Linked DNA regions of Homo sapiens. The protein of the gene in region 1 interacts with the protein of each later gene in a pairwise test. Each region holds a gene or a part of one and is shown on either strand. Other genes may lie near its edges.

Region 1 (7,817 bases):
ACAGGGCAGAGGGTGGGAGGAGATGGTTTCGGGATGAAACTGTTCCACCTCAGATCATCAGGCATTAGATTCTCTTAAGAAGCATGCAACCTAGATCCCTTGCAATGTGCAGTTCACAATACGGTTCGCACTCCTATGAGAATCTAATGCAGCTTGCTGATCTGACAGGAGGTGGAGCTCAAGTGGGAATGCTCGCTTGTCCGCCACTTACCTTCTGCCACTTACCTCCTGCTGTGTGGCCCAATTCTTAACAGGCCACAGACCACTTTAGGTCCACAGCCCAGGAACTGGGGACCCCTGTTATATAGCACTTAGGACAATGCCTCTGAGCAGTGCTTCTAACCTACAATGTTTCCCTTCTGGGGGATACATTTAAATACTGTCTAAATTCAAGTCACTTCTGAAAAGGAGATTATTTTGAGATTAAATTTAATCCCTTTTTCAAGCACATAAAATTTCCATAAAATGTAATTTAGCTGGTAATGAGCTGCCAATCTCACTGGTCTGAAAATCTTTTGCCCTTTAAATACATAGAAGCTTTAAGATTTATTTCACATACGTCTTTATAAGAGTAAAATAAACTACTATTTTTAAGCAGTAGTATCTTTCGCATTAAGCAATGAGTGATTCAAAAAGAACTAATTTCAACTGATTATCCCAATTAGTAAATTAAACTTGTCAAGGATCATGACCAATATGTAAAAAAGATGATCACATTAAATTCTTATGGGTGAATCACCAACACAACTTGGCTGGCCTTATTACTGAGCTCCAGGTAATAAAGCAGACTGCAGACCACAAGAAAAAGTTGATCAAAACAATTTGCTTCTGATCCCTAATATGCATTTCCTGTTAATTTTTCTTTCTCGAAATCAGTACTATCACAGCAAAAACAACAGCCAATCTTTACTGAAGGTTAACTATGTTGTCAGATAGTGGTGCTAAGAATTTCATACATATTAACTCATTTAATAAATGCCTAGAAAGATCCTAATAACTTATGAAATTTACTTTTTCTAATTAAAGTGAATTTTTAAAATGTTTCTTGAAAACAAAAGCCATCCCTAGGACAACTCAAGAAATCAGAATTAATGGGAAAATATTTTCAATGAAACATCTGAAGAACATGAATAAAATGCATATACATATTTTAAATGAAATCTAGCAACTTGATTTATATCAGTAGTCCAAAAGAAAAAATAAAATCCATTTTTCCACAAAAAGCACATTCCCCTAATTTGGACTTACCTTGACAAATGGGAAACATAGAATTTTAATTTTAGAAAAAAAAAAAAAAACTAAAGCTGTGATTTTTATCTTTTTTCATATCAATTTAATATATGTGAAAATTAAATAATTTGAATTCTATGTTTACTAAAATTCCTCAAAGCACTACACTCAGAAAGTAAATCATTTCCAACAAAGGAGGTAATATGGCAACACAGCAGAGTAGAAGCATCAGTACCTGAAGAAGAAAGCTAAGGCTCCTGATCAAGCTCTGAGATCTATCTATGAACCTGGGCAGGTAACTTATCTGAGCCCAAATATCTTCATCTATTTCAGTGTAGAATTGGATCAAATAATCCTGGTAGATAAAGGAATGTACTTGTCTACTAGAAGAAAAGCCAACAGGGTAACTTAACCAGTATTCACTATCTCATGAAATAGCTTGTACTCTGGAATCAGTCTCAAATCTTGGCTTCACCAGTTACTAATAAAGTGACCTGAAGATCTAAGTCTCAATTTCTCATCTAAAAATGGAGATGACAGGTCAGGCACAGTGGTTCTTGTAATCTCAGAACTTTGGAAGGCCAAGACAGGACGGTTGCTTGTGCCCAAGATGTTTAAGCAACAACCAAAAGCAACATAGCGAGACCCCATCTCTACAAAAAATTTAAAAATTAGCAGAGTGTGGTGGCATACGCCTGTGGTCCCAGCTACTCCTGAGCCAGGAAGGTTGAGGCTATAGCGAACTGTGATTGTGCCACTGCACTCCAGCCTGAGCAACAGAGAAAGATCCTCTCTCTCTCTCTCTCTCACACACACACACACACACACACACACACACACACACACGAAAGGGCAAGGGGAGAAAACTGTACCTATCTCCTAAGGTAGTCATGAGAATTAAAGAGCTTAGCACCATATCTGGCACTTACCAATTAAGACTGGCTCTTACTATTATAATCATCTCTAGGACATTTCCTAATACTGGCCAAATATTTTGATCATATTGTATCAGCACAAGCACTATCACTAAGAACAAAAAGCAATGATTGTTGAGTTTGGGTTTAAAAGCTTATTGTTTTGAGTGATTTTCCTCAAAAAAAGTAAACATCTATAAATCCTGTAGTATAATTTTGTTTTACTTGTATTATCACAATAATAGAAATTAAATATTCCAAGACATGTCAAAAGAAAAGGTTTAAGATTATGTAAGCACTATTTTCCTCTTTCAATTTATTCACAGACAGTTGTGGAAGGGGGGCAGGGAGGAAAGTCCAGATGCTTTTTAAATTCCCAAATGACTTCTTAATTTAACATGAATTATGAAAGAAACAGTTTCTGAGATTAAAAATGAGACTGCTACTTCAATAGCATATAATGAATTGAACTGTTATAAATTCCATGAATTAGTTACAAATTCCATCACTTCTTTAAAAACCTTCAACATTTATTATACATATTAAATACATTTATTTCATACATATATGTGATAAATTATATTTATTCTTGTTGGAATGGAAGGATGATTGCCAGCTTCAACACCTCCGGGCAAATCCTGATACTAAGTGCTAAGAATACAGATACAAATGGACCAAAGAGATGGCACACAGCCTCTACGAGCCACGGCATGATTATTCTGAGGGTTGTGGGGAGGGAAGAGGGAAGAGGAGAATGTCTCAAAGAGAAGTAAAATATAAGTCAGATTTTCAGTGCTGAATACAAGTCCAGTAGATGGGCAAGGGGAATAGGATAGGACAGTCAGGGAATAAGGGTCTGGCACTAACAAAACTAACAAAGGAGACAGTAACAGAAAAGCAGGCTGGAGAGGCAGACTGTGACAGACCATTAAAAGCCTTCTTTAAAAGAGAAAATGTTGCTTAAAGTTTATCCTGAAGAGATGGTGAGATCTACATTTTAGAAAGTATAGATGTATTGTAATGTAGTCATTTAAAAATGACTCCCAAGGCAATGAGAACTTCACTGGAGACTAGAGGCTGGTTAAACGATTACTGTCTGATCTAATGCCAAGGTCATGCACTGGGAATGAGGGGATGGAGGCATATATACGTATGGAAAACATTCAGAACAGCTTCATTTATATTTATTCACAAACACACAATTATTCCAGTTAATCTTCAGAGCATTCATTTGAAATGGTTCTTATCCCTACTTTACAGATATATAAAAAAAAGAGGCTGAGAGAGATTAATTTTGTCAAATACACAAAAAGTAACAGAGCTAGTATTCAAACTCTGGTGTGTCTGACTCTAACACCTAACTCCACTACATCTGAGATACACTTAGAAGCTGAAATGGATAGGGAGTAGGGAGATGGGAATAAAGGTTAAAGCACAGCAAAGGATCTCTAAGAAGTGAACAATCCTGGGTGCAGTAAACCACCATGGCACGTGTATACCTATGTAACAAACCTGCATGTTCTGCACATGGTATCCCAGAACTTAAAGTTTAAAAAAAAAGAAGTGAACAATCCAAACAGAATAATAATGTTTAATCTCTGAACCCTTCTCTTACTTTCACAAAGACAAAACTGAAGTTTCTCTAAAGCACTGCTATTGAAATGAGCATTTGCTATTGCTTTGTGTTCTATTATTTTCCCCTATATTATTTTTGTTATCATTTCCTCCTCTGTTTTGTTACTATGCCAGAATTTAATACTTATTCAGCTCCTTACAGGACTTGGAAAAAAAAAAACAGCACATAAATCAAAATAAACAGAAACTTGAATTTACTATAGTACCCATATTCCTGTGTATTTTTTTAAAAAGTGTAGATATTTTATACCAAGGAATTAGTGTTAATTTTTGAAAATTTGTAATAATAAAAGCAGGAAATGTAGATTAAAATGAAAAAATAAATAAAGAACAAAGTTTGTAAAAGTACTGCAGTTAACTGCTCTTATCTTTGGGAAATACTGAAATACCTACAGGTGAAATTACACAGGACTTGCAATTTGTTTCAAAATAATATAGAAGTGGGAGAAGTGGATGGATGAGGACTGATCACTGTTGATAGTTACTGGGCTACATGATGGAAACTTTTAGGTTCATTATACTATTGTGTCTACTTACCTTATTTGAAACTCTCCATAATTTATAGTGCTCTCAAAATAAAAAGGAAAGTTCAAAATTTATTCAAATACTGTATAATAAAGGAGGAAAAAACAAAACAAGTATATATATAAAATCATTTTTTCATTAGCTTTCATAATAATTTTAAAGTTGGCTTCCCAAACTAGCATTTTAGTTATGACAAAAAAAATCACATTTATCTTTTAAGAAGCATTCTATGTTTATAAATGCAAATGTAATTAATAGCCCAAGGGCAAAATTACTCAAATGGTCAATCAGGCTACACAATTTTCCCATTTTTATTATAATAGATCACAAATGAATTCCCACTAATTCCACAATACTTTTTTTTTTTTTTTTTTGAGATGCAGTCTCGCTCTGTCGCCCAGGCTGGAGTGCAGTGGCACAATCTCGGCTCACTGCAACATCTGTCTCCTGAATAGCTGGGATTACAGGCGCCTGCCACCACACCCAGCTAATTTTTTGTATTTTTAGTAGAGATGGGGTTTTGCCATGTTGACCAGGCTTGTCTCGAACTCCTGACCTCAAGTAACTGTCTGCCTCAACCTCCCAAGTGCTGGGACTACAGGTGTGAGCCACCATGCCCGGCCTAATTCCACAACACTTCAATGTACAACCTGACATGTGTAGAGATGTTAGTTATTGCAGTGTGTTATGTTGACAGTTTTCAGAAAATGTTCTGAACTTATGAGCTAATATTATATTTAATTACAAATAATTATTTGTAATAATACAATGAGCTAATATTTAATTACAAATATTTATTTGTAATTAAATATTTATTTAAATTAACAGAACACCGCATGTTCTCACTCATAAGTGGGAGATGAACAATGAGAACACACGGACACAGGGAGGGGAATATCACACACCAGGGCCTGTGGGGGAGTGGCGGGCTAGGGGAGGGATAGCATTAGGAGAAATACCTAAGGTAGATGATGGGTTGACCGGTGCAGCAAACCACCATGGCACGTGTATACCTATGTAACAAACCTGCACATTCTGCACATGTATCCCAGAACTTAAAAGTATAATTTTTTAAAAAAATCATTTTCCAAATTTCTTTTTCTCAATAATGGAAGCTTCATTTTACATATTCTCTTAAGAATATATGCCAACTAAACATTCAACAGGTGCTGAAATACGCACTGACTAAATAAATAAACAAGAGTCTTTAGAGAAGGAATGAATAGCAAAGCGGTAAAGAGTGGAGACAGTTATTCAGGCTACATTTTTGCTGAAAAAGATAGAAATGAAACAGTAAATACTTTGCGAGAGTATCAAAACTGGAGAAATTGAAGTTTGAGAAAACCTGAGCATTTTAACAGACTAACTTCAGAAAACCTTCCTTCTAGTTCAGATTCTGTCACTGACAAGCTGTGTGAACTGACGCAAGTCATTTAATCTCTCTAAGGTTCAGTTTTGACATCTATAATGGTAGTGATATTATCTCCCCTGCCTACATTTGAGAAAATCAAATGGCATATCAATGTAAAAATGTATACATTGTAAAGCACAACATAAATGTATGATTTTATAAAGATCTAAGAAAGAAAAAAATGTAATGGGGGAAATAGCAAAAGCATACTGAGGGGTTTGTCTTACAAATCAGAAGGTATCTTTATTTATCTTAGGTAAAAGGAAAGAAAGGGAAAACTAGTCTTTATGAGGCATGTAGTTCAAATATGATTCTTTTCCCCACAGGGAATTGATACAAATTTGCTTATTGTTTTTTCAAACTTATTTTGGTTTTTCTTTTATACTTTATCCTTATCTGACAACCAGATGCTCCCAAACAAATATTCAATACTATTACTTTTATCTGGGCATATCAAATTACAATTCACTTATTTAAGTGGTTCTAAGCTATCATCTATATGCTCCTTTATGCTCATAGGGCATTCTCACATTCTTGAATAGTTTCTTCATACTAAGCTGTCAATTCATATACTTATTTGTGTATGTATCCATACCCCTCAGAGGAATTTCATCAACTGCCATTATGATTATATTTACAATCCTACTGTTAACGACAAGCATCAAATCTTTCATGAACTTGAACTATTTGAATAATTTTCATTCTTTTTCCTCTAAGTAATATCAGTTTACGGCTATAGTTATCTAATTTCGTGTTGCCCTATATTCTAAGATAAATCAGATTACTTTTTCCACTTTTCTCTAACCATGACTATGTACGATGTAAGCTTATAAAACTACCTCATTTAGTGGTAAGTTGAAAAGGAAAGCAGAAGGGAAAATAGAGATAGCAAGTTAATGCTCCCAGTTGTATAAATATCTTCCTCTTCCTTCCTTTGTCCCTTCATTTCTCAATGTTCATTTCAATTTCTACTGCTAGAGCAGCTTCAAAACATCCTAACATTCTTCAACTGATCATCCATCACCAAACACAGCACAGTACTTACCTGGCCCGATGTTAAAGCTATAAAATGAGGTAAGCCCTACTCTCGAAGCACTTGTAGACTAGAGGAAGAGACCACCTTGCCAATAAACATGTTTCTAGGGCCCTAGAAACAATTACAAATACAACACAAATATCAAAGTTCATAAATACCAAAAAAGAGGTACTCAGTATTATAAAAGCATAAAATTTTTAAAAAGAGTACCATCTGGTACAACTAAGGATAGTAGCATAAAAAAGGAGAAACAAGCTAGAAAGCAGTTTACAAAAGCTCAGATATTTTGTTTTTAGGATATCAAATGCGTAGTAACCAATTTACTATCCTTTGATGAACTGCATCTTAATCAGAATTATATCGGAAAAAAGTTTAGTGTGAAAAAGCGTACTCCCTTGGAATATCTTCAAAGCTTTCCCTCATTACCTCAATGCACAAATATCTCTACCCACTATCCATCTGTCCTTCCTCTCCACTACTCAACTATCCTAGCACTTTGTCTTAGTTGACATTCATTAAAATATGTAAAGTGCGTTCTACATTTTGAAGAACTTATAAAAGATATGGGAATGATTATAAGGCCCTACCTTCCATATTCCTTAAGAACAGTTTCCTTTAACCCCTACTGTGACTTGCAGAGTAGATGCTCAATGAGTATTTGATTTAAAAAAATCTCTGGTGACACAATGAGAATTACATATTACATTAACATTACGTATCTCATAAAAGCTAAATTACAAAGTTCTTCAGCATTATAAGCTACACATAAAGAAGTGATAATGTAGTGATTATGAGCAAACAATTCTTTAGCATTACCACTTATACATGAAGAAATGACAGAGTGTAGTGGTTAAGAGCACAGACATGGAAGACAAACTGTCTGACATCTAATCTAGACCTGTCACTTAATTAACTATGTGACGTTGAGCAAACTACATAAGGTCTCAGGGTCTCAATTTTCTCAACTACAAAATAGGGATAAAGTATTATCTCCTCGCTCACTCTGAGAGTAAATGAGTATAAAGCTTACACCAGGACTTCGCTTGATAAGCACTAGACTTAAAAG
Region 2 (7,817 bases), on another chromosome or scaffold:
TTGGTCTTTTAGTATAAACAATATCCTTTGCATTTCATTAACTTTTACTTGGTGCAACTGTATTATATTTTGCATAAAGATGTGGCATTCTTCAAACACAGAGACAATTTTTCTCACATTTCAAAAGGGATTATAGAGCAAATGCTAGCATATTGAATAATAAAACATTACTTAGTTCCTTATCTGCACAGTTCAAAAGGAAGTTTCAAAATTATCTAGTTCCTATAAATAGTAAGTATCTCAAGGTGACCTTTCTGACGAGAAATGAGGCCTGGCTGTAGTCTGAACCAGTTATCTGACATGTGCCAAATTCTGACTTCATTTCATGATATGTGGATTATAGTTCTGGTGCTTAAAGCCAAAACCAACAAAAACGATGAAACTTTACCTGTGATTCAAGTAACCACAATCTTTGCCTCTTAAGGCAATGTCCCCCAATTCACTATCAACTTTCTCTTTTCGGGTAGCCAAGTGTGAAAATTGAGACGTCAGAGGTAGAGGCTTTTCAGAAAAACAAGGCCCTATACTCCTGGAACTAATTTACTTGTAAAATCAAGAAAGCCTGGGTCTGGAAAGCATTTCTCAGGTAGGACCAGATGTAGGATGTTCTGTAATATACATGCTGAATTTTGAATTGAGTATAACTAATTATCTCTAATGAGTCTGGGACAACCCCTGGAAGGATGAGAGGAGAAAGGGAGCTGATGATGAAGCTAAAGAGTTTACCATGGAAGGACTAGGGCAGCCTACTTAAAATGAATTCCTTCACCCCTTCCAAGCTTAGTGAAACCAGAAGCTCCCAAGGCATCACTTACTCCTTAAAATGTTTAACGGGACATCCTTTTCCAAGTGATCACAGGATTTCAACAACCTGCTGCCCAGCAGTAGAAGGATGCAAGAGTAGAAGGTGGGGGAGGCACCTGAAGGAAGAGAACAGCTATCTCCTCTATGAACATCAATATATATTTTAAAATTTCCAGATAGATGGGCTTTCCTGAAGTTCCTTTGTGGGAGGGAAGAATCCAGTGGTAAAAACTCTCTAAGTACATGGGCATAGATTCAGGAATCTTTAATAGCAAATTCCCTAGCTTATAAGCTCATTTGAAATCCCCAGGAGTCATGGGTGTTTAGTGGATGCCCAATAGGGGAGGACAGAAGGGGCAGCTGGAAGAATTGGGAACATGTTTGCTGAAAGTGAAATGAAGAGAACCAATGGGAAGAGTCTTTCTTGCCCCCTCTTTTGTTGGGATCCTGTATGGCCACTTTGACTTCGACTAGGAGCTGGGCAGAGGGTCACTGATCTCTCCTTCCTTGATCATTGCTCTGTGACTGGTACTATAGTGTTTGAGGCAAAGCTAACTGGTTTCTCAGGTCCCCTAAACAGACAGACAGGCGTCCCCCCAGTACCTGTAGGAGGATCTTGTTCCCATCATGGTCCTCCGTCTGCCAGCGCCCCTCGCTGATGGGGCTGCAAGGGTTGGGCAGGAGAGGCACGAGCTCGCCTATGTCCCTCACTCGGAACTCCAGCACGGAGGAGTCGGTGGGCACCGGGCACTGGTCACAGGGCAGTCTTTTCAGGGAGAACTGGATGTCCACATCCAGGTTGGAAAAAATAGGGAAGATGCAGAAGTCCGCTTTCTTCTGGCTGGGGCTCCTCCGGAGAATCAGCTGGTAGAACCTGAGGCTGTCAGCATAGTTGTCGTAGCGACAGTAGACGGTGAAGCGCACGATTTCCTTGCCGTAGTGCACGGGCCGGATGGCCCAAAGCGGCGTCCCAGGGGCCAGCGTGAAGAAGTCCTGGCTGCAGGGCAGGTAGGGCAGGAACCGGCCGTGCACCTGCTCGGTGTGGTGGTGGCGCCAGGGCGGCTGCTGCAGTGTGCGGTGCAGCTGCAGGATCTGCTCTTCGCCGTACTCCTCCTGCAGGAACAGCACCACAGCCAGCGCTGGCTGAGCGCCCTTGGGGGGCTTCCGCCGCCGCCGGGACGCCCGCCTCTCGGACACCCGGAACAGCGGGAGGTCGGGGTGGATCCACGCCAGGACGTTGTCGATGGCCTCCTGCAGGGGCTGGGACTCCCCTGGGTCTGCGATTATGTGGATGCTGACCAGGAAAGGGTCCTGCGCCTCTTCAACGGAAAGCTCACCTGGGGGCACGCAAAAAACGAATGGATGAATGAATACAATTATGATTATTTCATTAAAGTGTCCAGTGATGACGTGTACAGGCTTGACAGGAAGAGAAGTCAAATTCTAACTGAACTGACTCCATGACCTGTGATTTTCTGATCCCAAGTTTACCTATAAAAACTACTATGCCAGCACCTTAGCAGCCAAAGAGGAAAGGGCTGTTGCTACGTGAATAGTTTCTAAGCTGGACAGGGTGAGGAGAACCTTGGTCCTGTATTTCATCAGGTTGGTTGGTATAGGGAACATTTGACTTTATATTTACGTATCAGACAAATAGAAAGTCAAGTCTAGTGACTTGGAAGGAACAACAGGCCCATTAGAAAAGATGGCATAGCATCTTGTGGACACCATTTAGTATTTCCTGAAATAGCTGCAGGGCCTTGCCCCATACATGTTCCCTACACAAACGCACTCCTCTGGTTTGCTTATTTCATTTGTTTATTTTGTTAACACACACTCATGGGCTCCTTCCTACCTGCCTCACAGGGAGTGAGGCACAAGGCGAATGATGGAGGACAAGAGAGACCTGTGCTTGCCCCCTGGGGCTTACTCTATAGACAGGTCATGCCCTGGCTGTTGATGAGTCCTGCCCACAGTGTCCCCTATTGTGGGGTCCTGGCCAAGATCATGTTGCTGCTGGAGACACAGGGAAGGATGACCCCCAGAGCCAAGCACAGTGTTCTTGCTGTTGGAGCTTACTGGGGCTGAGGTTAGGGTGGAAGGAAAGCAGGGTGAGACCATGACTGCCCATGAAAGGCTACCTTTTGTGTCCCTTGCTGGGCCACATCCACTCAGAAGCCCACACAACTTGAATGGGTCGGTTACCCTCCCTGTGATCTCTGGCGGAACACCTGAAACTGTTGAATTCCAAGCATGAAGTTGACTGTTTAACTTGGCAACAGTTTCCCATGGGGTGACAGTTTTTTGGCCACACTTGGCATATTTCTAAATCATATAACTATACCTGATAAAAGGCTTGCTCTTTTAAAAGATGGTTCTATTTGCATTTATAGAAGTTTTAGGTCTCATTTAAGGGAATTGAGACATCTTTAGGCCAATTGTGATTTAGGGGGCTAGATTCACCTAGAATCTAGATCTGCCTTTACAAAACACATGCCTCACAGTGTCCACTAGGGGTGTCAGGCATACAGTGATCATGTGGTCAATTGTGTTCTATCAATGTGGTGTGCTTTTCAGAATCATAACCTTGATCAAGTCACAGGATGAAAATTTTTTTATGGTAGGTAGACATTCCAAGTGGGCTTACAAGTCCATTTCACCATGTACAGCTGCAATAACATGGTTTTAATTTAATCAGATCAAAACCCGTCTGAATTTTCTTCCCAACCCTATTAAGTGTCTCACTTGAAAACAGTCCAGCTTGCTGTCTTCTCTCTTATTCATGCATTCATTTGCACATCTGTTAAGCAATCAGTTTGTACCAGGCACTGGGGACACAAAGAAGCTGGCACTAATTATGTATGCCCAAGCACTATGGGAGTACATTTACGTATACTCTTGCATGATATGCTCCCTGAGAACTGTGCAGTGCACAACCTGCACAACCATAGGCAGCAGCCCTCTGAAGACCCATAAGCCCATAAGATGAGAACTTTGTGACTGAGTGGGGAAACACAAACATCAAAAAGTAAAATTAAATCTGATATATGCCTAAAAGGAATACAACGGAATAGTAACTTGGGGTGGGGGCTAGATTCTAAAGTCACTGTGAAGCAAAGGTTATCTATAGACACGATTAACACTGAAAGTCTCCTAAATTTCCAATAAAGTACTAACTTGTAACAAGACAAGATGGCCAGATAGATGTTTCTTTAGTTGAACACCACATAAAATAACCATTTTGCTGCAGGGCCATGTATAAGAGAATAGTCTGTTTCTTTAAACACTGAACCCTTACTCATCAAACCCTGCCCTTCACTCTACAAGAGGCTTTTGGGAACCTGAGAGGCTTCTGGAAGTTAAGGATGACTAAGGTAAGAGCGGAGTCAAGTTTCAGCTTTCCACATTCATGGAGTAGAATGGCAAGTGGAATCCTTTAAATTGTCTTCCCTCTTTTTCCTTCCTGCTGGCTGAGCATGTATTCTCAAATTTGTATGAGTTAAATATGAGCATAGAGCAATTCCAACTTACTACATATGACAAAAGAAGGAGGGCTCTGCAGAAGGCTTCCTGGAGGAGGCACCAAATGAACTGGGTCTTGAAGGGTAAAGGCAGAACACATCCTCTTGCTCATGATGCCCTCAAATGCTGAGGAGATTAGGAAGTGTTTACGAAGGTATAGAACTGTGCAAAAAACAAGCACATTTGGAAGGGGGCCGTGGGGAATTCTGGGACATGGCAACAGATGCAGCTGGAAAAATGGATTAGAACCAAGCTGTATGGGGCCTCAGCTCAATTCAGTAGTTGATAAGGGGCAAAGGAAGGTTTTATGAAGGGGTATCAGGATCAAGTTGGGGGAAAGTTGGCTATAGGCAAAATAAGGAGTTAGAAGACTAGTGAAGAGTCCAGACAGGAGATGACAAGGACTTGGCAGAGTAGGAGATTATGTTAGTGGCTTCAGTTCCTTATCCTATTATGTATCCTTACTTTCTGCCATGTGACTGTGTAGCTCCTCCCACTAAATGGGTGGCGTATTTCCCCACCCTTTGATTTAGGATGAGACTATATGCCTAGCTTTGGGCAGGAGAAAGAGACAGCAGTGGCATGTGTTTTGGCTTGCCTCCCTGTGCTCCCAACATTTCCATAAGAACATACTTGGGGGAGCCCACCGGTCCCAGTAAGGGGATGAGACACATGGAACAGACCCACTCTAGCTGAGCCTGCCCTAGATCAGCCAAACTTCACACCCAAAGACGCAGGGCAAGAGCCACTCAGGTGAGCATGGTCTAGATCAGCTGATCCAAGACAAATGGGAAATAATAATGATGGTTGTTTCAAGCCTGAAACTGAGACTGGAGGTGGCTGTTACCCAGCAGTACTTACAGATCCAGGACAGTCAGTCAAGTGGGTAAATAGAAGAGGCATGGATTCACAGGCTATAAAGATGCAAATGGCAGGCCAGGAAGCCCACAGGCCTGGTGGGTGGGGTGTAGGAAAAGTTGGAGAGGAGTATATACCCTGATGTTTCCAGCTTGAACAAGTGATCTGATGTGATGTTTAACTGAAATAGGAAATAGAGGAAGAAGGGCAGATTTGTGGGAAAAGACAGAAAGTTCCACCTTGACCACTTGGCTTGAGATGCCCAAATGACTTCCAGGAGAGATGTCCTTTGGCAACTGGATCTTTGTGTTGCTTAGGTGAAGGGCTGAATTTAAGGATGGGCCAGTTACTTTCAGATCATATTCTCATTTGTATGCAGTTATCTGATAAGCGTGTGCCCCCATATAGACCTGAATCATGAAAATTCATCATGATGGCTAGGAACACAATCAGAATTCAGAGATAATTCTGGCCCTTTTCTTTGCTTGCCCTTTCTGCCTGCCTGGCTTCTTTCGGTTTGGTTGAACATTCATGACACGATCGGCAGAAGTACAGTTGACGCAAAAGTAGTAAAGCTGCGATGAAATTTTCTGCCAGTGAGTAACTCCAGTAAAAGTAGGAGAAAATACCACATCATCTAAATGGATTTCACTTTTCTCTGGTGCCTTGAACTCCCAACAGTGGAGACATGCGACTTTGCTAAGCATCAGTGAATGCTCCATGTAAATGGAAAAGGACAGAAAGGCTTTGAACGAGGGGTCAAGAATTTTACCTGAAAAAAATGACAGATGATTTTAATGAGGGGGGAAAAACACCATGCGAAGTAAAGGAAAGTCTGGGAAAAGAAGCTGCCTGGGCCACCAGGAAGTCCCTTCAAGGTCCTAATCCCACCCCCAGGTGTGCATGTGGCCAGGTACACAGGGTGACATGTTAGCTAACATGGGTGCTTTCTCCATGTTCTACATGTATGAACTCATTTAATCCTTACAACCACCATAGAAAGGGGAGGTGCTATGATTGTCCCCATTTTAGAAACCAGGAAATTGAGGCACAGGAGGTGAAGTAGCCTGCCAAGGTCACACAGAGTATGAGCACTAGCTCCAGTATCCGAGTTCCGTGTGCACCATCAGCCCAGGCTCTGCAGAGAAGTGTGCTCGCCTCTCCACTGTATCCCTTTCACAGCAGAGTGGCCAGCTGCCATTCTCCATCCATGTGTGGCCACGGCAGCTCCCGCCTGGCCCCTCTGCACGGCTCTCCCACCTCATTCTGACTGGCTTCATTCCCAGCCACCAGCCAACAGCTTCATTTCTTGGACACCCACTTACATTTCTTTCCTCTGGCCCCAGGTCTTGGAGGAAGAATAAGCTAGAAACTGCCCTCCCTGTTGGCACATGCCCAGGTCTTCACATCTCAGCAGTGCCCTCGAGGGCAACTCAAACAGGCCAGCACCACAGGTGGGTGCACAAGTGAAAGGAATGCATAACAGTCACCCAAGAAAGCCTATAGCATGGCGTGAGAGGCTTGGGTGTGAAGAGGCCCGGGAGAAGGTGGCTTCTGAGACTCTCCAGTGGAGCTGTCAGGGCGCTCAGCCCTGTGCCATCTCTATCAGTTACACAAAGGTTTCCCTGAGAGCAGTAACAAAGACCATGCTGAAGTCTGCATGGATGAGTGAATGTTTACAGCTCTGCAGAAGGGCGAAATGCCCGGCCTCAGAGCAGGGGGGTGAGCTGAAAGGCATTCCACCAAGTACCAGCTCGCCTGGCAGTTTGGGAGGCAGCCAAGAGCAGGCGAGCCAGGATGACGAAGACCCGACCCCCAGAGCCCCCTCTGCACTGCCTGAACCAGGGACATGTAAGTGGCTAAGACCCTGCCCCAGAAGAGCTAAGGAGAATGAGCAGTGGCATTAGCATGCTCTGGCCATCACTAGCACGTACCCGCTGCACATGACCTGAAAACACAAGCAAAGAACACAGAACGCAGCTTCAAGCTGTCATCAGGTGTTAGAGTTACACCCCCCCCCACCCCACGAGAAACATGCCTCTGTGGAGCTGGATAGGAAACCAAGCATTTGAGGGGAAGGACAGAAAATGTGAATAATTAATTGCCACGAAAAGTCTCTATGCCTCCCTGGAGAAACACAGACGACATGACTGTGGGATGTGCTCTGCCTTTATCATATCTATTACATGTCTTCTCAAAGGACCTAGCGAGCACCTGTTGAATTATGGTAAAACACAGACCAGAACCAAACAGAGCAGTGGCACAGACTGCCCCAAGGCTGGTGGGAGGATGGGAGCTGCTAGCACACCATTAACAAGGCTTTCAAATTAGTTTGTGTTTTCCTAAGGAGAAGGGAGATTCTTTTTCATTTGATTATAGACAATTAGGCTTTCCTTTGATAACACAAAATGAAAACAGTGTTAAAGAAAGCAGTGTACAAGCTCAGGCCTTCTATGATGCAGAAAGTGTACTATTAGCCTGGGCATTTGTTATATATATATTTTTTCCAACATTTTACCTCTCCTGTGTATCCTGTTTCTGGCCATTTAAATTTAACAGAAAATTAATTTAGACAATAGCAACCATTTATTATGCTCTTATTATTTGCCAGACATTGTCCTACAAGCTTTATG
Region 3 (7,817 bases), on another chromosome or scaffold:
AAGTACTTACCCAGGTCTATTGTAAACACTGTCACAAGCCCTAAGGATGAGTTGGGCAAGGCCTAAAAATCAGACCTAGGGAATGAATGTCTATAGGGCTTGTATTTACTCATTCCACTCTCAGTCAGATTCACCCCCTATATACCCTTGGCTCAGGTGAAGAGCAGAGAAGTCCAAAGGGGAATGAAACCTCGCATCCCTCCCTTGTCTGCGACTATAGAATCAACCCCCTCAACCCAAGAAAGATGGCTAAGAGTAGAAAAGTCTACAAGCTCTTTGCAGGTGATATACTGACTGCGGCAGAAGACACCCAATAGCTGGGTGGAGTCTTGATCTCCAACCGATTCTGTGACCTACGAATCAGTCACATCACCTCCCAGAGTCTCAGTACTCCCATCTAGAAATGGGGATTAATACTTCCTATACAACCTTTCTCAAAGGCCTGACCTAAGGATAATACCATACCAAATGTGAATATTTATTGTCATCTATAAAGCATTGTGCAAAGATAAATTAGTATTGATCGCAAATAACAGTAGTTTCTAATAATAAAGAATTCCTACGACTTGCGTTCCAGATTAACCATCCAAGTGGAGGCACTTGGAGGATGACTGATAAGCACACTAAACGCCATAATGAGAAAGATAACGTGTGCCCACTGTGCATTCTGAAAAGCCCTGAGTATGGGCATGCCAGAGGTCCGGAAGTACCCTCACATGCCTGTGAAGAAACACCGGGGTCCACAAGGAAGGGAACATCCCTATGAGTCATGAGTTGCAGTTTGCTGTTCCCAGTCAACAAGCTACAGCAATCACTATGGACATTTCTTATATTGCCCTAGGATAGGTCTTAAGGAATGTAGAAAAACTTGCCCTACATCCCTCTGCCACATAAGGAGATAAGATCAAAATTTTCTGGACTCCAGAAAATGATAAAGTATAACTCAATGGATTTTTAAAAATCATAAAGAGACAAGGTTAGAAAGTGCTAATTTCTCAGAGACTGCAATAAAAAGCTTCACTGGGAAGAGCTCTTTTAAAGAGTGACTCAAGTCACATCACACTTAGTGAGCACCTACTATGTGCATGACCCCCTGGGTGCTGCAAAGATAAATAAGCCAGGTATTCTTTAAAGCATGGGAAAGAACAGGCTAAGGGCCACAAAAGGGACCAGGTATTAGGAGGAAACACAGGAAAGGTAAATTTTCTTCTTTTTTTTTTTTTTTTTGAGACAGAGTCTCCCTCTGTCGCCCAGGCTGGAGTACAGTGACGCGATCTAGGCTCACTGCAAGCTCCGCCTCCTGGGTTCACGCCATTCTCCTGCCTCAGCCTCCCAAGTAGCTGAGACTACAGCAGCTGGGATGACAGACGCCCACCACCACGCCCAGCTAATGTTTCGTATTTTTTTTTTAGTAGAGACGAGGTTTCACCGTGTTGGCCAGGATGGTCTCGATCTCCTGACCTCGTGATCCGCCCTCCTCGGCCTCCCAAAGTGCTGGGATTACAGGCATGAGCCACCACGCCGGGCCAAATTTTCTTCTTCTCAAAGACATATAGGAAGGCTTCATGAGTCAAGTGGCATTTGAGCTGGGAGAAAAAAATAAAGCGGACATAAGGTGTCAGAAGGTCATCTGTAGAACCTGGGACATTTAATTGTTTCTGTGACATGGATCCTCTCGACAGACTGTAGAAGCCTATAGATCCCTGCAGAGAATAGCATATTTAAGTGAATATGATAACATCACACAGGATTTCCAAGAAAATCAGTATTAAAATACAAAATGCGGCCGGGCACGGTGGCTCACGCCTGTAATCCCAGCACTTTGGGAGGCCAAGGCAGGCAGATCACGAGGTCGGGAGATCGAGACCATCCTGGCCAACACAGTGAAACCCAGTCTCTACTAAAAATACAAAAAAATTAGCCAAGCATGGTGGCGGGCGCCTGTAGTCCCAGCTACTCGGGAGGCTGAGGCAGGAGAATGGTGTGAACCCGGGAGGCGGAGCTTGCAGTGAGCCGAGATCGCACCACTGCACTCCAGCCTGGGTGACAGAGCGAGACTCTGTCTCAAAAAAAAAAAATAAAAAATAAAAAAATAATAATAAATGCCTTTTTAAAGTAAATTTGTGATAGAGTACCCTATGTGATTATTAGTGCCTTAAATAATAAAATCTAGCAGCAAGTCTAATATCCACCATAATTTCAAAGCAGCAGTAAACATTTTTTGAGATATCTGCAACAACTGTAATGTGAAATAAAAATGCCTGGGATTTCTATTGGCAACAAAAACATACGAACCACTAATAACACTATGGTTTCCCATCTATATTTATAATGAAAGAAAATGCTATATTTAAGTTAGAGGTTAATACAAATAAAGATGTCCTTTTTTCCCCACTCAAGTTCACAGGTTCCATGCTGTTTCCATGGACCCAGGTTAGGGAACTCTGATGAAGAGCCTCGGCCAGACACGGTGGCTCACGCCTGTAATCCCAGCACTTTGGAAGGCCGAGGTGGGTGCATCACTCGAGGTCAGGAGTTCAAGACCAGCCTGGCCAACATGGCGAAACCCCATCTCTACTAAAAATACAAAAAATTAGCTAGGCATGGTGGCACGCACCTGTAATCCCAGCTACTCCAGAGGCTGAGGCAGGAGAATCACTGGAACCCGGGAAGCGGAGGTTGCAGTGAGCCAAGATTGAGATCGGCCACTGCTCTCCAGCCTGAGTGACAGAGCAAGACTCTGTCTCAAAAAAAAAAAAAAAAAAAAAAAAAAAGAAAGAGAGAGAGAGAGAGAAAAGAGCCTAAGAGCCTAAGCAAAGAAAGAAAGTGAGAAATTGGGGTGTATGTTACATGACAATGTAGAACATGCAGAGACAGGAGGCGGCATGGAAAGGTAGGTAAAATCCTCAGAAGATGGCAAATAAGGTAGGTAAAATCCTCGGAGGTCACCAATGTGAGAATTCATTACTCCCAATTATTAAATAATAGAATAGAGGTGGGGCGTGGTAGCTCATGCCTGTAATCCCAACACTTTGGGAGGCCAAGGTGGGAGAATCACTTGAGCCCAAGAGTTCAAGACCAGCCTGGGCAACAAGACCACCATCTCTACAAAAAAAAAAAAAAAAAAAAAATTTAAAAATTAACTAGGCATGGCTGTGCTCTCCTGTGGTCCCAGGTACTTGGGATGCTGAGGTAGGAGGATCGCTTGAGCCCAAGAGGTCAAGGCTACAGTGAGCCGTGATGGCATCATTGCACTCCAGCCTGGGCAACAGAGTGAGACCTGTCATTCATACATATATACATAAATAACAGAATGTGCTCTAAGTTCTAGAAATGCATCTTCTTTGGAATAAAAAGAGATGAATGAAAGAAGCTAGGAAAACATCATTCTACAAGTTTCAACTTATAGCTCCTCTTTAAAATGTAGAGGACAGCATATTGATAAATTTACTCCTAATAAAAGAGCATGGATCCCATACCATCCCTGTTATGTAAATGTACACATATGTCTGGGTATAAGCATATGTATAACACAGATGTTTAGAAGAAATGTGCATCAAAATATTAATGGTGATTCAAGTTTAGGAGTGATTTTACTTTTTCCTTTGCATTTTCTATCATTGGAAAACGGGCAGAATTAGGCCCAACATAGGTTAGGAGACTTAGGGTAAAACACATACCACATAGTACAAAACAGAGCTGGTACAAGAACTCAGAAATTCCCTTTTCTCTTACTATATAAAAACTTTCAGATTCAGAATTGAATGCACCTGAACACATGAAGTACATATAATGATTAAGCCCAACTTATATATTTAGAAACTGAGGCTTAAAGTCTGAGTGACTTGCCCAACGTCACACAGCAAATGTTAATAACTGGAGATTCAGAGGTAAAATCTGGGTCTCTTGGTCCTGAGTGCAGAATATTGTCCTTGTTAAAAGCCAGGGTTTTGTATTCATCCTGACCCAGGTTAAGTCCCACCTATGCCACTCACTTGCTGGTAAACTTGGATGAATTCCTATATTTTTCTAATTCTAGGGTTCACCACAGTTTTTTTTTTTTAACCTCAAAGTGTAATGGTGATGATTAAATGATACAGTAAAGTCCTATTAAAACCTGTGACATAGTAAACACCCTTGTCTCACTCACTATGCCTTTTTGTCTCTGTCCCAGGTGGAAGAACTCCACTATTACTTTCCAGGAGCAGACAGACATTATCTGCTCATTAGGCTCAGCAGCTTGGTTCTAGTCTCAAAAGTCAACTGGGATCATGCTCACTGTGCCTAGAACAGAGAATGCAGAACATCAAGCCTAACACAGGACAGGATGTTGACATGCTGAGCAGCTTGTTGGGGGATCTCTAGGGAATTCGGATTCAATAGGTCTGAATGGGACCAGAGATTTTGAATTGTTAGAATCTAATATTTCTGTGAATTAAAAAGGGGCTCAGCCTAACTGTGAGCAATGTATTATCCAATGAGTGGCATGACAAGGAATGACAGGAAGACCCAGGACTGTCGACAGTTCTAGGCCTCTTCTCTCAAGGACGAAGGGCAGCCACTGCCCAGAACCATGGAGGGGGAATTGAAACCAATCCAAACTAGCACAAAAATGAATGTTTGGAGAGATCCCCTGCCCTGGATACATAATGTTCTCAGAGATAGAACAAACTTCCGAGATGATCCTGTGCACTCTACAGATGCAGCACATAGTGAATACAACTCTCGGGAACTTTCCAAGCACATGGAGGCCCATAAAACACCAACGCACCATAAATTTCCATGGTAAATCCTGCTGGGGGAATTCATTAACAGAAAAGTAGCAATCAAACACTGGAAAGGTAGGGCTTCAAAATTACCCACTCTGGAGATGTAGAAAGTGCCTAAAAATATGGTAGGTCCAGGAGCACCACACCAAGCATTTACATCTTTGAAATGGCCACATGGCACTTATTGGCCTGAAAGGAGAAACAGCCAGCAAAATATCCTGCTAGAGTTGGTGGGCAAAGGAAACAGGGGAGGGGTCCCTGAAGGCCCTTATGAATTTCTCAAAGTTTTTGTTCACCATTTTATCTTCAGAACCCTGCACGCTGATTGGCAAACACTATTACATTCATTAAGTATTTGTCAAATGCGTGAAAAAAACAGAGGGAGAGAAAGAGGGACAGAGACAGGAAGACAAAAAGAAATTATCTCAGGCGGGGCATGGTGGCTTACGCCTGTAATCCCAGCACTTTGGGAGGCCGAGGTGGGTGGATCACCTGAGGTCAGGAGTTCTAGACCAGCCTTGGCCAACAACATGGTGAAACCCCATCTCTACTAAAAATACAAAAATTGGCCAGGTGTGGTAGCGGGCGCCTGTAATCCCAGCTACTCGGGAGGCTGAGGCAGGAGAATCACTTGAACCCAGGAGGCAGAGGTTGCAGTGAGCCAAGATCATGCCACTGCACTCCAGCCTGGGCAACAAGGGCAAAACTGTATCTCAAAAAAAAAAGAAAAAAGAAAAAAAGAAATTATCTTTGCTCCTACAGACTAGGCAGGCTACTGAGTATAGTATGTCTCACCCAAAAGTGATGGAAACTGATTGCTACTACAGTAAAAGGAACATGAGCTTCTGAGTCAGGAATAACTGGATTCAGTCTCCAACTCTGAATGATCTTGGCCTAAGTTCTTGACTTCTTTCTTTGAGCCTCACCATTTCATCTTTAAAAAGGGTAACAACACCTATTTCACTTCCAAAATAGGCATGATACTTATGCTTACAAAGTTGTGGAAAAAAGATTACATGAGCTAATGGACTTAGGCAAAGTAGCTAGCACAATGGTCAGCACATGGTATGAGCCAAAATCCTCCTGGGCTACCCTAATTGTACTGCATAGTTCTTTCAGATGTCAAGCTGCAGAAATAATTCCAATTTAAGTTCACTGGATCTTCTAAGAAAGTATATTTTTATCCCAGCACTCTGGGAGGTCAAAGCAGGAGGATTGCTTGAACTCAGGGGTGTGAGACCAGCCTGGGCAACATGGCGAAACCCTGTCTCTACCAAAAATACAAAAAACTAGCCAGGCGTGGTGTTACACGCCTGCACTCCTAGCTACTTGGGAGGCTGGGGTGGGAGGATCACTTGGAGCCCAGGAAGTAGAGGTTGCAGTGAGCTGAGACTGTACCACTGCACTCTAGCCTAGGTGACAGAGCGAGACCCTGTCTCAAATAAATAAATAAACAAACATTTATTTAAATAATAAACTCACGTATATATTCTTTTTTAGTTAGCAAAGTAATTTCACATTCTGACATAACAGTTCTGAAAAACAATGCTTACTGTTATCCATGTTTAATAAATGAAAAAACTGGCCAGGCATGGTGGCTCATGCCTGTAATACCAGCACTTTGGGAGGCCAAGCCAGAAGGATCACTTGAGGCCAGGATTTTGAGACCAGCCTGGGCAACATAGTGAGACTCCATCTACACAAAAATTTTAAAAAATAAAAAATTAGCTGGGCACGGTGGTACACATCTCTAGTCCTAGCCACTAGGGAGGCTGAGACAGGAAGATAGCTTACGCCTAGGACTTTGAGGCTGCGGTGAGCCATGATCATACTATTGCACTCCAGGCTGGGCAACGGAGCAAGATCCTGTCTCAAAAAAAGAGAGAGAAAATACTAAGACCACAAAGCCAACAAGAGGCAGACTGGGAATGAAACTATAGATTTTAACATTTTATTATAATTACTATGATTTTCTCAATCAAAAATTCAAATAGGAGATCTTATTATAGAATACTTGAACTCAGACTGTTCCAGAAATCTACTTATATTACGCTAAAACTTATAGCTAAAATCGAAACAAAATCCTGAAAGAAGTGATTTTTTAAAACAAAGCCTTTCCTCTGGATTTTATGCATCTATTCTTAATAGTCTCAAGTAGGAGAAGAGGAACATGTTTTAGAGTAAGGCTGACCTGAGTTTCAGTAGCATCTCTACCATCTATTAGCTTTGTGACCCTGGATATCCACTTTCTTCACCCCACTAAATTTCAATATCTTCATCTATGTAATGGGAAAGCAATACCTCCTCAAAAGTCTATGTGAAGTTCCTGGCCCTGAGAAGATGATTAGTAAATGATTAACTACCGTAAAAATCATGCCATGGTACCGACCACTTGGTCTGTAGGTTAGGTGACGGCTTGTTTCTTTCCTGCCTTCTCCAGCATCTGCATACCCCCTTTTCTGCATCTGTTCAATGGGGACACAAACCAGTCTCTATCGAACCTCACCAGGGAATGAAGATAACAAAAGAGCTGGCAGAGACATTATGCTAATACCAAATATTATTAAAACATTAATGAACTCTGGCAATTTCCCTGAATTTTGATAAATGGTGTTTATTATGCACTGCCAGCCTTTCGCACAGTCTGGGCTCTCAAATATTAACTAGATAATAACACCAATCATTCTCCTAAAAGACCAAGGTACAGAGGAATAAGAAGTGAATCTAGACAATTGCAGCTAACACCTGCCTCCAAAAAAAAATCAGAATCTCTGTACAAACAGAGAGCATCAGGACAGACCCCAGAGACCACAGTGACCACCAGCAAGCTCAGATCAACCCCACAGCCTGTGCAGAACCCTACTTTGATAAGACAGTGGAGTGTCTTGGTGTTGACAGGTCATTGATTATGACAGCTGTCTACCACCTCCTTGCTCTTCAGTGTAAAATTCCTCCAAACTAGACAAAATGAAAAGGATCTGTGAAGCTGGAGGGGCTTCAGACTTGGCTAACAATCTTACACAAAAAGAGAGTAACATGCCTCACCCC
Region 4 (8,329 bases), on another chromosome or scaffold:
GCCAACATATTTATATTAAGGGAATGAACCCAAGTCATTATATGAAAAAAATAAAGGAAGATGAAATTATAGATGCTCCTTGGTTTACAACGGATTTTGCTGAAGGTAATGCCAGAAGCTGAGTTTACTGAACGCTTGTCACTTCCACACCACTGTCAAAAAATCCTAAGTCGAACCATCCTAACAGGAGACCGTCTGTACTATCTTTAACAGTGTAACAGAACACAGAATTAGCTTTCCAGCAGTGACTGCCTCTGTTGAATTAGTAAGCTTGGTAAACTTTCATTTCTTACAACCAATGACATAAATGCTAGACAACTGGTCAAAGTTGGAACGTTTTCTTCAGCCAAGCTGAACTAACCTAACTGCAGTTCAAAACTGAAGTTTGGTGCCTCATCGGCACCATGTTCTAACAAACTAAGCTAAAAACAATGGCTTATGGACATACTGAGAATGCGGTTTCTTATCCTTCCCCATGTCTCAGAAGGGAACAAAGTGACTATTTAAAGCCAAGAAAAATATAAAGAAATAAAAACCATCTACAACAGACCTAGACAAAAAAACACCCTCAATTAGGGCAGAATGTAAGACTCCCATTTCCCAGTCCATACCCTTTTAGGTACACCTGTTGGGGCACAACATGCTCTTATTTTTATTAAAATTTGAAGTTCACTTAAGTTCACATATCCATTCTTTTGAACAGCTCTAATAACAGCTATTATTCACAAGTGCAAACACTGTCAAAGTACAAGACACTGTGCTAGATATACATTATGTCAAATTCTCAAAGTAGGCTTTGTCCAGAAATACTAAATACGGAAACACAATGAAAAGTGACTTGTCCAGAGCGACACCGCTAGTGAGAGGCAGAGATAGAATCCAACCCAGGTCTGCTTGGTTCCAAGGCACATGCTCTTTCCACTACACAGCACAGCACTTTCAAAGAATCTTAAAACTTTGCATGTGAAAGGAACCCTATCATAATAATGGCTGCCTTTTTAATGAAAATCTACAATGTGCCAGGTGCTTTACATACCTTACCTCATCTTCTTACAATAACCAATCAAGGGAAGTGATGGTATTACCGTTTATGGATAAGGAAATAAAAGAAGTCAATTGTCAAAGGCCACAGGCTAATAAATAACTAACCTGCGATTTAAACTGATGTCTGCTTAATTCAAGCCAAGAAAAATACTAAGATCAACTGAAAAACATCTACAAAAGACCCAGACAAAAATCACACAGGCAATCAGGTTAAGTAATAAATATCTAACCTGAGATTTAAACTGAGGTCTGTTTAATTTCAAGTTGATACTCTTTTGATCATGAGCTCAAAGAAATCAGAATGACCTCTGTGTACTCAATACTTCAATGGATGTCACTTCTAGAGGAAACTGCAATGGGCTAAGTATGGCTACAAGAAACTTACAGTGCCACCAGACTCACAGGATTTCAGGACTGGAAAATATTAGAGATCTGAGGGATGTACTCAGTTGCATTATTTTGCAGATGGGAAAACTGAAGCTCAGAGAGATTGCAAAACATTCATGTAAAAGGAGGATTTGAAGCAATGGAGACCAGCGCAAGGGCATTCCAGGTGAAGGGTATATTCTGAAGAAAAGCATAGAGGTAAAAATGATCATGCTTGAACTGTTAGCAATACAGGTAAAATGTACTATATAAGAAAGGAAAAAAATGAGGAATGCTGTCAAGTTATATGACCAAAGGACATTTCTTTTTAAAAAACAAAAATCTTAAAAAGGTTTTTTAGACAATTTTTCCATTTTAATAGAATACCTATCCCTGCTGTCACAGTTATTCCATCCAACCTTATCTAATACTTGATATGAATCTCTGTGCTGTGGCCACATTCTCTTTCGATTTTGTTTGCTGTTAGCACTGTGTCTGTACTAAAGCACGAGAATATGGATTTATACATTTTTTTCTAACCAATGTCTTCTCACTCAAAACTTATTTTGCTTTGTCTTTTAATTATTTTTCACTCTGAGTTGCGTACTGAAAGCCTAATGGCAAGAGTCTTAAAATCTCTGCATAAAACTTAAAGTTTACAGTAATTTTTTACTCCAAAGAGTACTAACTGAAACACAATAACTCAAAGAATACAGCCTCAGATATTTTATTACAAAATGTAGTACTACCATTAATTAGCATGATATAAAGAAATACTGGTCACAGACCAAAAACTGAGTTCGACAGTCTGAGTTTCTATGAAGAAAAGTTTAATAAATTATTCTCAAGGTAACAGTTTCAGAAGAAAAAGTTTTTAAACATTTTAAATATTTAAGAAGTTTTATTTCCTGGTAACAACTGTTAAAAATAATTTACAAATGTAATTTATTTACGCTGGTTGATAACAGAAAAAAATATATAAATTATTATAAAACTTTCTGAAGTCAAAATTGCTTTATTTACTAGGTTCAGGCATCATACGTCCAAAAATGTGAGGCTCCAAATTCAGGCGCAGCGGAGAGTGTGTTAATGAAGTTAGTGCTGGTATACTGACACCCTAGAGAAAAACCAGGTTTTCAGTTTATGTATCAGGTGCATGCAAAGGGCATTAAAAAAAAAGTGCTCTACAACGTTGGTCAGAAATGACTACATTACTTCTACTGGTATGAAAAACTGCAAACCCATCTCAGCCCCTATCAGACTGGCAGACACTAGTCCTGAAGCAACTGGGCCTAATCCAAAACTTCGGCGCAGCAGGTCACAGAGGAGGCGCCTGGGAAAGAGGAGATATCAAGTGAAAGTGAAGCAGGGAGAAGCCAGAAGCCGCCCCAGGCAGGTCAGAAAAGACTGTGGGGCTGGGAGGGAGGATGACAGGGTGTGGGGAGTGGGTGGGAGGAGGGGGTGTTATCAGAGGGAGAGCACTAAATGACACAAAGCAAAGGCAATCCTTAAAATGCCAATTCACCCTGGGAGACAGGGTGTGCACAGTGGAAAAGCAGGGTTTGGGTCCTGAACCCAGGAAAACCATTTCACAGACAAGTACACCGAGGTATGGGTTTCAAATACGGTCCTGCAACAAGGGAGCAGTACAGTTACGAGTAGACTGTGAGCCCTTGCAGGGTATAATTCAACCTGGCATTCCCCGCCCGCCCCAGCAGTGCCTAGCACTTGGCACAACCAGGAACTATCTCTGAATGAATGTCCCACGTCTTGAAACTCTAGGCTTCTTCCCAGACACCTGGGCTTCTGGCCTTAATACGCTAGGGTCCAGGACGGGAGAAACCCAGGCTGAGCGGGTCCGGAGAAGATGGGGCCTTGGGGTCCGAGTCCAACCACTGGCCCTCCGCCCGTCCACGGGCACTCACCCGGATGCCCTTCACCACGGTGATGTTCTCATTCTCGTCCGCCTCGAAGGTGACCCGGCGGGTGCTGGTGGTCCCACCCATGATTCCGGTTCCTGCCCCAGCGGAGACCTAGCGGGGAACCACGAGCACTTCGGGGCCCCCGCACCCACACGCGCGTGGAAGGGCCTGGATTCTTTTCCCGCACAGCGGGAGCAAGGCCACGACCCCCAGAAGCAAGGAGAAGGCGCCGGTCCTGAGCTCCCGCCTCCTCCGGTCACGCGCCACAACAAAAACGCCTCAGGTTGGTCGGCGATGCGAACTGCCCGCCTCTGTTCGGCGAGGGCGCCCGGATTGGTTCACCCGACCCGGATGCTATGGCAACAGGTGGTGTTTGATAGCTTTCCGCGGAGTCCCTGGGTGTAGTGGGAACTGTGGTCTCGATCTGGCGCGGTGGGTGATGGGACATTCTCTCCCCGCGCCTGAGCGCGCTAAGGGAGCACGGCATTCTGGGAGTTGTGGTTTTGACTCCCCAGAGACGCCTAACTGGGCAACTTTTTGAAGACATAATTCTAGAAATTTAGGCCACTAAGTTCAGAGACACAATCTTTCTCTCAAAGGGACTCACAGTTTAATGAAAAAGATGCATGATACTAATGAAGCCATTCCTAGTGTTCTATACACAAATTCCTGGCTCAAAACTTAGCGTTTCATTACAGTCGTAGGGTAGCTTAATGAAGACTACTTCTGAGAAATGCCTCGTTAGGTGACCCTGTGATATCTGTGGTTGTGCAAACATCATAGAGTGTACTTACACAAACCCAGATGGTGTAGCCTACTACACACCTGGGCTACTTGGTGTAACCTATTGCTCCCAGGCTGCAAAGATGTACAGCATGTCACTGTACTAAATACTGTAGGCAATTGTAACACAGTGGTATTTGTGTGTACAAATATATGTAAACATAGAAAAGCTACAGCAAAAACAGTGTAAAAGTGATTGCTTTGGCAACACATCTAGGACAATTTGAACAATACAGAGATTAGCACAGCCCCTGAGCAAGGTTGACACATGAATTTCTGAAGCATTCCATTAAAAAAAAAATCAAAGATAAAAAATGGTATGCTTCTATAGGGCACTTACCATGAATGGAGCTTACAGGACTGGAAGTTGCCCTGAGTGAGTCAGTGAGTGAGTGGGGAGTTGAATGTGAAGGCCTGGGACGCAACTATGCAGTACTGTACCTTTTATCAACACTGTGCACTTAGGCAACACTAAATTTATTTTCATATATTTTCATTCTTCAAGAATAAATTGACCTTAGCTTACTGTAACTTTTTAAACTTATAAACTTCTTTTTTTGTGACTTTTTGACTCTTTAATAACACTTAGCTTAAAACACAAACACACTATATAGCTGTACAAAAATATTTCTTTCTTTATATACTTAGTCTATAAGCTTTTTCTATTTTTGAAATTATTTACTTTTTACTTTTTAAACATTTTTGTTAAAAATTAAGACAAACACACACACATTAGCCTAGACCTACACGGGGTCAGGATCATCAATATCACTGTCTTCCACCTTCACATCTTGTCCCACTGAAAGGTCTTCAGAGGCAATAACACGTATGGAGCTATCTCCTATGATAACAGCACCTTCTGTAACACCTCCTGAAGGACCTGCCTGAGGCTGTTTTACAGTTAACTTTTTTATATAGGTAGAAAGAATGCACTTTAACCTAAAGATAAAAAGCATAGTATAGTAAATACTAGGAGACAGGAATTTTCCAGCTCCATTATAATCTTATGATTCCACTGCCAGAAATGAGGTTCTTCTTTGACTGAAACACTGTTATGCAGTACATGAATGGTGGCATTTTAGTAGTAGCCATAAAATAAAAAAATAAAAAACGTAAACGTGTGTTTGGTCCATGTCTCTTGTCTCATGAACTAGTATCTGTATTTTTTTCTTTTTGTAAAGTAAAATTTTAAGTACTATGGTTTTCAAACCTGTCTATGAGAAAATACATTTCTTCATAGAATAAATTATTTGCACCAAGTATGTAGAGAATTTACTTTCCACTTTTGTGTCTCCTTCTACTACTAGTTCAGTTACATAAGTTAGGCCATAATAGGGTTAGGCAGAGAAAAGTTAAGTGATTGCCAAAGATGGCATAAATTAGTGGAGGAATTAAAACTACATCAGAAAAGTTGAGATGATCTATTGTGGAAAGTTCCTATTAATAGTTCAACATTTCACCTCTACGAGACCAGTACATAGTTATTAGGTTATTCATCTACATATTTCTTTTTTGCTAAACACACTGTTACACATAAGTTTAGCCATATGACCTTAGTTTTACAGAGGCAGATGATTCTCAATAGAAATTAGGTTAATGATGGTACTATTCTTCAATTAATCCCTCTCAACATTAAAAGCAGCAGGCCACAACACACCATGGCATTCTCTTATGCCAAAGGCATCTACAATGCAGTCGCATTTTTGAGCTTCAATTATGTGCTGATCTATTACTGTATGAATCCAATTATGTGCTGATCTATTACTGTATGTATCTTTTATTTTTCTGAGACAGAGTCTCGCTCTGTCGCCAGGCTGGAGTTCAGTGGCGCAATCTTGGCTCACTGCAACCTCCGCCTCCCAGGTTCAAGCAATTCTCCTGCCTCAGCCTCCGGAGTAGCTGGGACTACAGGTGCGTGTCACCACACCCAGCTAATTTTTTTGTATTTTTAGTAGAGATGGGGTTTCACCATGTTGGCCAGGATGGTCTCCATCTCCTGACCTCATGATCCTCCCACCTCAGCCTCCCAAAGTGCTGGGATTATAGGCGTGAGCCACCGCTCCCAACCTTACTGTATGAATCTTTAGAGCAGAAACTATGTCTTTTTAATCTCTATATCCCTGGTCAGTAGCAGAGTGTTGATTACATCTCATCATTATATTCTTTTAAAATTGTACTATGTTACTTTGCAGTTATGAGACTACGTGCTACTTTGTACTTGTTCTCAAGTTTCCTTCTTTTTTCTTTTTTTTTTTTTGAGAGAGAGAGGGTCTTGCTTTGTTGCCTAGGCTAGAATGCAGTGGCCCAATCACGACTCACTGCAGCCCCAACCTCCCAGGTTCAAGCAATCCCTCCCAGTTCAGCCTCCCCAGTAGCTGTGACTACAGGTGTGTGCCACCACACCTAGCTGTGGTCTCACTATGCTGCCCAGGCTGGTCTCAAACTCCTGAGCTCAAGCAACCTTTCTGCCTTAGCCTCCCAAAGTGCTGGGATTACAGGCATGAGCCACCATGCCCAGCCTAACTCTTTCTTCTACTGGGAACTAAAGCTCCAAGGAATTATGACTTTCATTTTTTGGGGACCCTCCCCTCCACAAACACACTCTCACTTATTACCCCAATATATAGGGCATATCGGAGGTTCTATATAACACACATGCTCAACAAGCACTTACGAAAATAACCAAGTACAAAGAAAGCGTTCCTTGGAGAGAATAGAGAGATGAAGAAACCACTAGTTGTCTTAAATATATATATATATATCTCCAGTTAGAATATTAAGTAGAGTTCTTTCAACCAAATATATTAAAGATGATGAATGCCAAGCATGAGAAGGTAGTGGAGTGCCTTCATGTTTTATGATTCAAACACATATAAGTGGTCTAATCAAACAGACAATCCAAAAATGTTTTAGACATCCTAATGCATTTTAACCAACATTACAAAGATGCCTTCTGAGTTTAAAAAAAATTCAATGTATTCTTTAAAACAAAATGCCTTCTCTAACAATACTGTTCTATCCATGTCAATTTCTAGGCCAGTCATGCCTATACAATCCCTTCTTGAGCTACCCAGAACTTGTGGCCTCCCTTTCTTTCTGGCTACAGCTTATTAATAGTCATCTAATCCAAAGGCAGCATTTACTAGCCAGACACCTATGAGCTAGAATGCAAAGCTTTGCCCTAAGAAAAATAATAGCTAATACTTCAGCTACTCAGATTCTCCATGTTTTTCTCCGTTTTCTGTATCTCTGTATTCACTTTCTCAAATTTAAACTTGAAAATTCAGAGCATACAAAAAGATAGCAAGAAGAGAAGTTATAACACTGAGTCTGTACCATGAAGAATCATGGCAAACTAAAGATAGGTGGAATAAGAAACTGCAAGAAAAATAAAAGGCATCCAGACTGGAAAGGAAGAAGTAAAACTACCTCTATTCGAAGATAACATGATCTTACAAATAGAAAAATCTTACAGAATCCACTGCAAAACTAATTAGAACTAATAAAAAAACTCAGCAAGTTTGCAGGATACAAGATCAACATATAAAAATCAATTGTAGCCGGGCGCTGTGGCTCACACCTGTAATCTCAGCACTTTGGGAGGCCAAGTCGGGCAGATCACCTGAGGTCAGGAGTTTGAGACCAGCCTGGCCAACATAGTGAAACCCCGCCTCTACTAAAAATACAAGAATTAGCCAGGCGTGGTGGTGGGCACCTGTAATCCCAGCTACTCAGAAGGCTGAGGCAGGAAAATCGCTTGAACATGGCGGGCGGAGGTTGCAGTGAGCGGAGATCGCGTCACTGCACTCCAGCCCCGGAGGGAGAGTGAGACTCCATCACACACACACACACAAAAACTGTATTTCTATACACTGGCAATTAACAAGCCAAAAATGAAATGAGGAGAGCAATTCCACTTATAATAGTATGAAAAACAATTCAAATGTTCATTAATTGATGAATGGAAAAACAAAATGTAATATATCCAGAAAATGGAATATTAATGGGGAATAAAAAGGAAGAAAGTACTGATATATACTACAATATGGATGAACCTCAAAGACATTATGCCAAGTGAAAGAAGCCAGACACAAAAGGCGGTTGAAATGTTCAGAATAGGCAAGTCCATGGAAAACAAAAGAAGATTAGGCTTGGAGAGGGTAGGAGGAGGTGAGATGTAGAGTAACTTCTAATTGTTACATAGTTTCTTAACT

Evidence for each region.
Region 2: the proteins of RAB3IP (region 1) and FAM124A interact in binary tests that used the Homo sapiens proteins (3 or more experiments, as listed by UniProt).
Region 3: the proteins of RAB3IP (region 1) and MB21D2 interact in binary tests that used the Homo sapiens proteins (3 or more experiments, as listed by UniProt).
Region 4: the proteins of RAB3IP (region 1) and CHCHD3 interact in binary tests that used the Homo sapiens proteins (3 or more experiments, as listed by UniProt).

What each region holds. Positions count from the first base shown.
Region 1 is NC_000012.12:69,741,553-69,749,369, reverse strand, and holds part of RAB3IP (rab-3A-interacting protein isoform alpha 1), read right to left. Parts: intron 1-7,817. UniProt on the Homo sapiens protein: Guanine nucleotide exchange factor (GEF) which may activate RAB8A and RAB8B. Promotes the exchange of GDP to GTP, converting inactive GDP-bound Rab proteins into their active GTP-bound form.
Region 2 is NC_000013.11:51,245,792-51,253,608, reverse strand, and holds part of FAM124A (protein FAM124A), read right to left. Parts: intron 2,142-7,817; coding exon 1,408-2,141; coding exon of another isoform or gene 1,336-1,407; exon of another isoform or gene 1-1,335.
Region 3 is NC_000003.12:192,907,190-192,915,006, forward strand, and holds part of MB21D2 (nucleotidyltransferase MB21D2), read right to left. Parts: intron 1-7,817. UniProt on the Homo sapiens protein: Probable nucleotidyltransferase that catalyzes the formation of cyclic dinucleotide second messenger in response to some unknown stimulus.
Region 4 is NC_000007.14:133,078,522-133,086,850, forward strand, and holds the start of CHCHD3 (MICOS complex subunit MIC19), read right to left. Parts: upstream 3,570-8,329; 5' UTR 3,417-3,569; coding exon 3,336-3,416; intron 1-3,335. UniProt on the Homo sapiens protein: Component of the MICOS complex, a large protein complex of the mitochondrial inner membrane that plays crucial roles in the maintenance of crista junctions, inner membrane architecture, and formation of contact sites to the outer membrane.